Linked DNA regions of Homo sapiens. The gene in region 1 interacts genetically with each later gene. Each region holds a gene or a part of one and is shown in the gene's direction. Other genes may lie near its edges.

Evidence for each region. A genetic interaction does not mean that the proteins touch.
Region 2: changes in DDX23 (region 1) and MUS81 impair growth when combined (synthetic growth defect), as found in Homo sapiens cells (one large-scale study listed by BioGRID).

What each region holds. Positions count from the first base shown.
Region 1 is NC_000012.12:48,842,004-48,845,776, reverse strand, and holds part of DDX23 (probable ATP-dependent RNA helicase DDX23), read left to right. Parts: coding exon 1-203; intron 204-1,726; coding exon 1,727-1,837; intron 1,838-3,773. UniProt on the Homo sapiens protein: Involved in pre-mRNA splicing and its phosphorylated form (by SRPK2) is required for spliceosomal B complex formation.
Region 2 is NC_000011.10:65,863,433-65,866,939, forward strand, and holds the end of MUS81 (structure-specific endonuclease subunit MUS81), read left to right. Parts: coding exon 1-70; intron 71-145; coding exon of another isoform or gene 146-167; coding exon 168-289; intron 290-368; coding exon of another isoform or gene 369-371; coding exon 372-469; intron 470-1,064; coding exon 1,065-1,181; intron 1,182-1,287; coding exon 1,288-1,383; intron 1,384-1,584; coding exon 1,585-1,713; exon of another isoform or gene 1,714-1,714; intron 1,715-1,787; coding exon 1,788-1,891; intron 1,892-2,378; coding exon 2,379-2,462; intron 2,463-2,553; coding exon 2,554-2,620; 3' UTR 2,621-3,007; downstream 3,008-3,507. Other genes in the region: EFEMP2 (EGF-containing fibulin-like extracellular matrix protein 2 precursor), read right to left, coding at 3,486-3,507. UniProt on the Homo sapiens protein: Catalytic subunit of two functionally distinct, structure-specific, heterodimeric DNA endonucleases MUS81-EME1 and MUS81-EME2 that are involved in the maintenance of genome stability.

The sequences.
Region 1 (3,773 bases):
GGAGAGCTGGCTGACAAAAAGGACCGTGATGCATCACCTTCCAAGGAGGAAAGGAAGCGATCACGGACTCCTGACAGAGAGCGGGATAGAGACCGGGACCGGAAGTCTTCCCCATCTAAAGATAGAAAGCGGCATCGTTCAAGGGATAGACGTCGAGGAGGCAGCCGTTCTCGCTCTCGTTCCCGTTCCAAATCTGCAGAAAGGTAAAGTAACTTTGTATGTTATTACATGGGAAGGGAGAGTACGTTTCAGATTTCTTCCTTCTTGGTTCTTCTGATGCCTCCAGTATTAGGCATCTACTTTTTATTTTTATTTTTTGAGACAGAGTCTCGCTCTGTTTGTTACCCAGACTGGAGTGCAGTGGTGCGATCTCAGCTCACTGCAAGCTCCGCCTCGCAGGTTCACGCCATTCTCCTGCCTCTGCCTCCTGAGTGCGTAGCTGGGACTACAGGCGCCCGACACCATGCCCGGCTAATGTTTTTGTATTTTTAGTAGAGATGAGGTTTCACCGTGTTAGCCAGGATGGTCTCGATCTCCTGACGTGATCTGCCTGCTTCAGCCTCCCCAAGTGCTGAGATTATAGGCGTGAGCCACCGCGCCTGGCCTTTTTTTTTTTTTTTTTAAAAGATGGAGTTTCACTCTTGTTTCCCAGGCTGGAGTGCAATGGCACGATCTCGGCTCACTGCAACCTCTGCCTCCCAGGTTCAAGCAATTCTCCTGCCTCAGCCTCCCGAATAGCTGGGATTACAGGCATGTGCCACCACACCTGGCTAATTTTGTACTTTTAGTAGAGACGGGGTTTCTCCACGTTGGTCAGGCTGATCTCAATCTTCCGACCTCAGGTGATCCACCCACCTCAGCTTCCCAAAGTGCTGGGATTACGGGCGTGAGCCACCACGCCCGGCTAGGCATCTACTTTTTGTACATTAATCTACTCCTAGCCCAGTTGGACCTGCAGGTGTTTTCAGTTTTCCTCAGTGACCCAACTCTTAAAAGTTGAGAGGGGGCCGGGCGCGGTTGGTTCACGCCTGTAATCCCAGCACTTTGGGAGGCCGAGGCAGGTGGATCACGAGGTCAGGAGATCGAGACCATCCTGGCTAACACAGTGATACCTGATCTCTACTAAAAATAAAAAAAAAAAAAGTTGAGAGGGAACTAGTAAGGTGAAGGTCCGGGTTATCAAGGAAGGTTCATCTGTGGCCGGGCGCGGTGGCTCATACCTATAATCCCAGCACTTTGGGAGGCCGAGGTAGGTGGATTACTTGAGGTGAGGAGTTTGAGAGCAGCCTGGCCAACATGGCAAAACCCCGTCTCTACTAAAAATACAAAAATTAGCCAGGCATGGTGGTGCACATCTGTAATCCCAGCTACTCGGGAGGCTGAGGCATGACAATTCCTTGAACTCGGGAGGCAGAGGCTGCAGTGAGCCGAGATCACACCACTGCACTCCAGCCTGGGCGTGAGAGTGAGACTCCATCTCAAAAAAATAAAAAAGGAAGGTTCATCTGTTCACATAGTCCGTGACCTGTCATTGCCGTTAATATTTAACAGTACATCTCTGATCTATAAAAGCTTCTTAGAATTCCCTCGTTATTTCCGTGAGAGATACATTCTCTAATTTGTAAAACATTACTTTGGGACGAGAGTATAGGAACTTTCTCAGGGCTGCAGTGAAGCAAGATACTTTGGAAATACCAAGTGAACTCTTAAATTTGCGGTCTTCCAGAGAACGACGGCACAAAGAACGAGAACGAGATAAGGAGCGGGATCGGAATAAGAAGGACCGAGATCGAGACAAGGATGGGCACAGACGGGACAAGGACCGTAAACGATCCAGGTACATGAAGGAATGAGAGGGGGCTTTAGGGGAATGCTCCCATTTCTTCTCTGCACCTGAGTTTGCTCAGCTTCTTATGAAAGTAGATTTCTCGCCAGGCGTGGTGGCTCACGCCTGTAATCCCAGCACTTTGGGAGGCTGAGGCTGGTGGATCACGAAGTCAGGAGATCGAGACCATCCTGGCTAACATGGTGAAACCCCGTCTCTACTAAATATACAAAAAATTAGCCGGGCGTGGTGGCGGGTGCCTGTAGTCCCAGCTACTCAGGAGGCTGAGGTAGGAGAATGGCGTGAACCCGGGAGGCGGAGCCTGCAGTGAGTCGAGATCACGCCACTGCACTCCAGCCTGGGCGACAGAGCAAGACTCTGTCTCAAAAAAAAAAAAAAAAAAAGAAAGAAAGAAAGTAGATTTCTCTTAACAGATTCTGTTGGTAGTTATTACAGAGCTCTCTTTCTTATTTATTTTTATTTATTTTTTTGAGGCAGGGTCTCTTTTGCCCAGGCTGGAGTGCAGTGGTGTGATCACAACTTACTGCAGCCTTGACTCCCCCAGGCTTAGGTGATCCACCCACCTCAGCCTCCTGAGTAGCTGGACTACAGGCATCTGCCACCAGATTTTGTTTTTTTTGGGTTTTTTTTTTTTTAATTGATCATTCTTGGGTGTTTCTTGCAGAGGGGGATTTGGCAGGGTCACAGGACAATAGTGGAGGGAAGGTCAGCAGATAAACAAGTGAACAAAGGTCTCTGGTTTTCCTAGGCAGAGGACCCTGCGGCCTTCCGCAGTGTTTGTGTCCCTGGGTACTTGAGATTAGGGAGTGGTGATGACTCTTAACGAGCATGCTGCCTTCAAGCATCTGTTTAACAAAGCACATCTTGCACCACCCTTAATCCATTCAACCCTGAGTGGACACAGCACATGTTTCAGAGAGCACAGGGTTGGGGGTAAGGTCACAGATCAACAGGATCCCAAGGCAGAAGAATTTTTCTTAGTACAGAACAAAATGAAAAGTCTCCCATGTCTACCTCTTTCTACACAGACACGGCAACCATCCGATTTCTCAATCTTTTCCCCACCTTTCCCGCCTTTCTATTCCACAAAACCGCCACTGTCATCATGGTCCGTTCTCAATGAGCTGTTGAGTACACCTCCCAGACGGGGTGGTGGGCGGGCAGAGGGGCTCCTCACTTCCCAGTAGGGGCGGCCGGGCAGAGGCGCCCCTCACCTCCTGGACGGGGCGGCTGGCCGGGCGGGGGGCTGACCCCCCCACCTCCCTCCCGGACGGGGCGGCTGGCCGGGCAGAGGGGCTCCTCACTTCCCAGTAGGGGCGGCCGGGCAGAGGCGCCCCTCACCTCCTGGACGGGGCGGCTGGCCGGGCGGGGGGCTGACCCCCCCACCTCCCTCCCGGACGGGGCGGCTGGCCGGGCGGGGGGCTGACCCCCCCACCTTCCTCCCGGACGGGGTGGCTGGCCGGGCGGGGGGCTGACCCCCCTACCTCCCTCCCGGATGGGGCGGCTGGCCGGGCGGGGGGCTGACCTCCCCCACCTCCTTCCCGGACGGGGCGGCTGACTGGGCAGAGAGGCTCCTCACTTCCCAGTAGGGGCGGCCGGGCAGAGGCGCCCCTCACCTCCCGGACAGGGCGGCTGGCCGGGCCGGGGGCTGACCCCCCCACCTCCCTCCCGGATGGGCGGCTGGCCGGGTGGGGGGATGACCCCCCCACCTCCCTCCTGGACGGGGCGGCTGGCCGGGTGGGGAGCTAACCCCCCCCACCTCCCTCCCGGACGGGGTGGCTGCCGGGCGGAGACGCTCCTCACTTCCCAGACGGGGTGGCTGCCAGGCGGAGGGGCTCCTCACTTCTCAGACGATGTGGCTGCCGGGCGGAGGGGCTCCTCACTTCTCAGACGGGGCGGTTGTCAGGCAGAGGGTCTCCTCACTTCT
Region 2 (3,507 bases), on another chromosome or scaffold:
AGCAGCCACTGGAGCTGAGGCCTGGAGAGTACAGGGTGCTGTTGTGTGTGGACATTGGCGAGACCCGGGGGTGAGTGAGGTGGGGAGAAACGAGGGAGATGATCAGAGGAGGCTGGGGGGTAGGCACTGCCCTGCTCTGATCTAGGCTTCCCTCCTTGCCACTCCAGGGGCGGGCACAGGCCGGAGCTGCTCCGAGAGCTACAGCGGCTGCACGTGACCCACACGGTGCGCAAGCTGCACGTTGGAGATTTTGTGTGGGTGGCCCAGGAGACCAATCCTAGAGACCCAGGTGAAGGGCCGTGGACAGGCTGGCACCAGGGGCAGGGCCTGGTGGGTAGGGGATCGCAAGCTAACGGCTGGCTTGTCAGCAGCAAACCCTGGGGAGTTGGTACTGGATCACATTGTGGAGCGCAAGCGACTGGATGACCTTTGCAGCAGCATCATCGACGGCCGCTTCCGGGAGCAGAAGGTAATTTTGCTGGCTTTGCCAGGCTTCCCTGCCTGCTCCGAAGCCCCGTTTTCAGCCCAGAGCAATCCAGGGGCACTTCTGGCAGCCTCCTTGAGGCAGAGCCCTTTGGAATCCAGCCACACCCACCCTGTGGCTGCTCCAGGATCAGACCCCCACAGGCCCATCCAGGCGCACAGTAGGAAGCCAGGTACCTGCATTCTTGGGCTGAGGTCAGGAGCATTTTAAAGACCTCTTGGGTACCCAGCCCCTGCAGTCTTGGATAAACAAGGCATAAACCTCCAGGAGTGGAAATACAGAGGCTGTACCTTGGTACTTGCTGCTGGGTGGACCCCTAGTCACAGAGGCCATGTGCCGGCCCAGGGGAGGCTTGAAGGATGGGCAGTGTTGAGAGATGGAGAAAAGGCTTTCTAGACAAGAGTGTCAGCATGAGCAAAGCTGCGGAGGCCCCTGTGAGGCAGGTGGAGAGGCTAGGGAGGATGCAGAGGCTAACTGGTGGGAACAGGGTCCCGGCACCATTTTGAGTGTGACATCATGGATGCCCAGGCATGTGGTCATCCAGCCTGACCCTCCCTGTCCACTCTGTACACTTCCCTAGTTCCGGCTGAAGCGCTGTGGTCTGGAGCGCCGGGTATACCTGGTGGAAGAGCATGGTTCCGTCCACAACCTCAGCCTTCCTGAGAGCACACTGCTGCAGGCTGTCACCAACACTCAGGTGAGCTGGGAGGGCAGGGCCAGGCAGGCAGGCAGGGGCCCCTGTGGTCCATGGTTCATGGTCTAGGCCAGGAGCCACCTTCCCTCTCTTGGGTCCTCTTCCCCAGGTCATTGATGGCTTTTTTGTGAAGCGCACAGCAGACATTAAGGAGTCAGCCGCCTACCTGGCCCTCTTGACGCGGGGCCTGCAGAGACTCTACCAGGTGAGCAGAGGCCCCTTTCCCAGTGTCGGGACAGAGCCCACAAGGAATTCACCTTGCCTGGGCCCTGTGCATCCCCAAAAGAAGCAAGGTGGGTGAGATCCCCATTTCTCAGGCTGGCCCCCCAAGGCTGAGGACTGGGCAGGGGCTGGCTGGAGTTGTTCCTTCGAGCTCCAGCCTGGCCTCAGTCCCTTCTTCCCTCAGGGCCACACCCTACGCAGCCGCCCCTGGGGAACCCCTGGGAACCCTGAATCAGGGGCCATGACCTCTCCAAACCCTCTCTGCTCACTCCTCACCTTCAGTGACTTCAACGCAGGAGCCATCAAGAATAAGGTACTGTCTCTGCCTAGCTTCTCAGACATGGCCTGGCCCAGACCCCCACTGATCCAGCCCTTTCCCGAACCCAGGCCCAGTCGGTGCGAGAAGTGTTTGCCCGGCAGCTGATGCAGGTGCGCGGAGTGAGTGGGGAGAAGGCAGCAGCCCTGGTGGATCGATACAGCACCCCTGCCAGGTAGGCCCTAAAGGGCCCTTAGGTGTCCTCAGCCCCTGCCCTCCATGCATGGAATTCACCTTAATCCATGCTTCGTGGAGGGGGCCTGGCCTTGTGTGGGCTCTGCAGACCAGAGATAGACAGATCCCAGGGTGCTCGTGGAGGTCAAGTGGGGAGGAAGCCAGCAGGCCCACATAGTGTCCCAGGTAGTGGAGGCCACAGGAGGGAGGGAGACGTCCCACCTGGTGGAGAAGAGGCTTCCTGGAGAAGGGGTTGGGCCATTAAGGGGAGTGAGGGTGAAGGTTTGGAGCCTTTGCTGGTTTTGCCCCAGAGTTCCCACAGGGAGGGAGGACAGCCCGGCTGGCATGGGGCCTTGAGTGCCAAGCTCAGGAAGTGGGGCAGTGTCCCAACTCTTCCATCCCATGCTGACCCCTCTGCCTGGCCCCTCATGGTGCTGGCCCAGAGTGGGCCACTGTCAGCCTCAGAAACTCAAACCCCTGCCCCCCAGCCTCCTGGCCGCCTATGATGCCTGTGCCACCCCCAAGGAACAAGAGACACTGCTGAGCACCATTAAGTGTGGGCGTCTACAGAGGTGAGGGCAAGAGACGGAACCTGGAGGGAGTGGCAGGGACTGGGGCTGCCCTAGGCCCAGGGCGTGACCCTCGCTGCCTCTCTTCCTGCAGGAATCTGGGGCCTGCTCTGAGCAGGACCTTATCCCAGCTCTACTGCAGCTACGGCCCCTTGACCTGAGCTTATGCCGTGAAACAGCCCCCAGCCCCCGTCTGTCCCCCAACCCAGGCTAGCCAGCCTTTTAACAACATCTTTTGGGGTACAATTAGAATCTAAGTGTTTGCAGCCATATGTGTCATGTAGAAGATGCCTAGCCCTGGGGACCTTGTGAAATACGCAGGAACCAGGGATACCATCTGGTCCAGTGGTTTTTAAACAAAGCTGCTTAGCACCTGGAATTCCCTGGTCAGGGAGATGGAGTCAGTGGGGCATTGCAGCTTGGAATCTATTTTATGTCACCAGTTGGTCCTCATCAAATAAAATTTCCTTAGGAGTGCAGAGGGCTCATTGGGAAAATAAAAATAATAAAAATAAATAAAACTTCCTAAAAGAAAAGATTGAAAACCACTAACAGTCCAGTTGCCTCGTTTTATAGAAAAACAGGCCCAGGGAACTACTAGGGCTTATCCAAATGTACAGTTTGAGGCAGAGTTAGGAATGGAACCCAGGGCCTCCTGGCGCTGTCCAGAGTGGAGTTTCTTAGGACCCCTGCAAGCCAGCCAAGTCCAAATCTCTGGGCCGGGGCCTGGAGTCCGCCCTCCTCGTTACCTCCTCTCCTCTCGGGGTGACTGAAGCTCGTGGTGCAGAGCTCCCAGCTCCTGTCAATGGGGGCCCCTGGGCCTGAACATATAGAGACCCCCATTTAGGTGAACTTGGCCTGCCCCCCCAAGTGCCACCCTGCCCCAGCCTGAGGCTTCCTGCAGTGTGACCCGCCCACCTCAGCCACCAGGACTTTCTTTCTCCCTTTATTGCCTTTCTCATTCTGCCCCTCACAACAGGCTCCTCAGCTAGGGTAGCTGCAGGGAGGGTGGCTCCCTCCTGCTCCTCAGAAGGTGTAGGCCCCTACA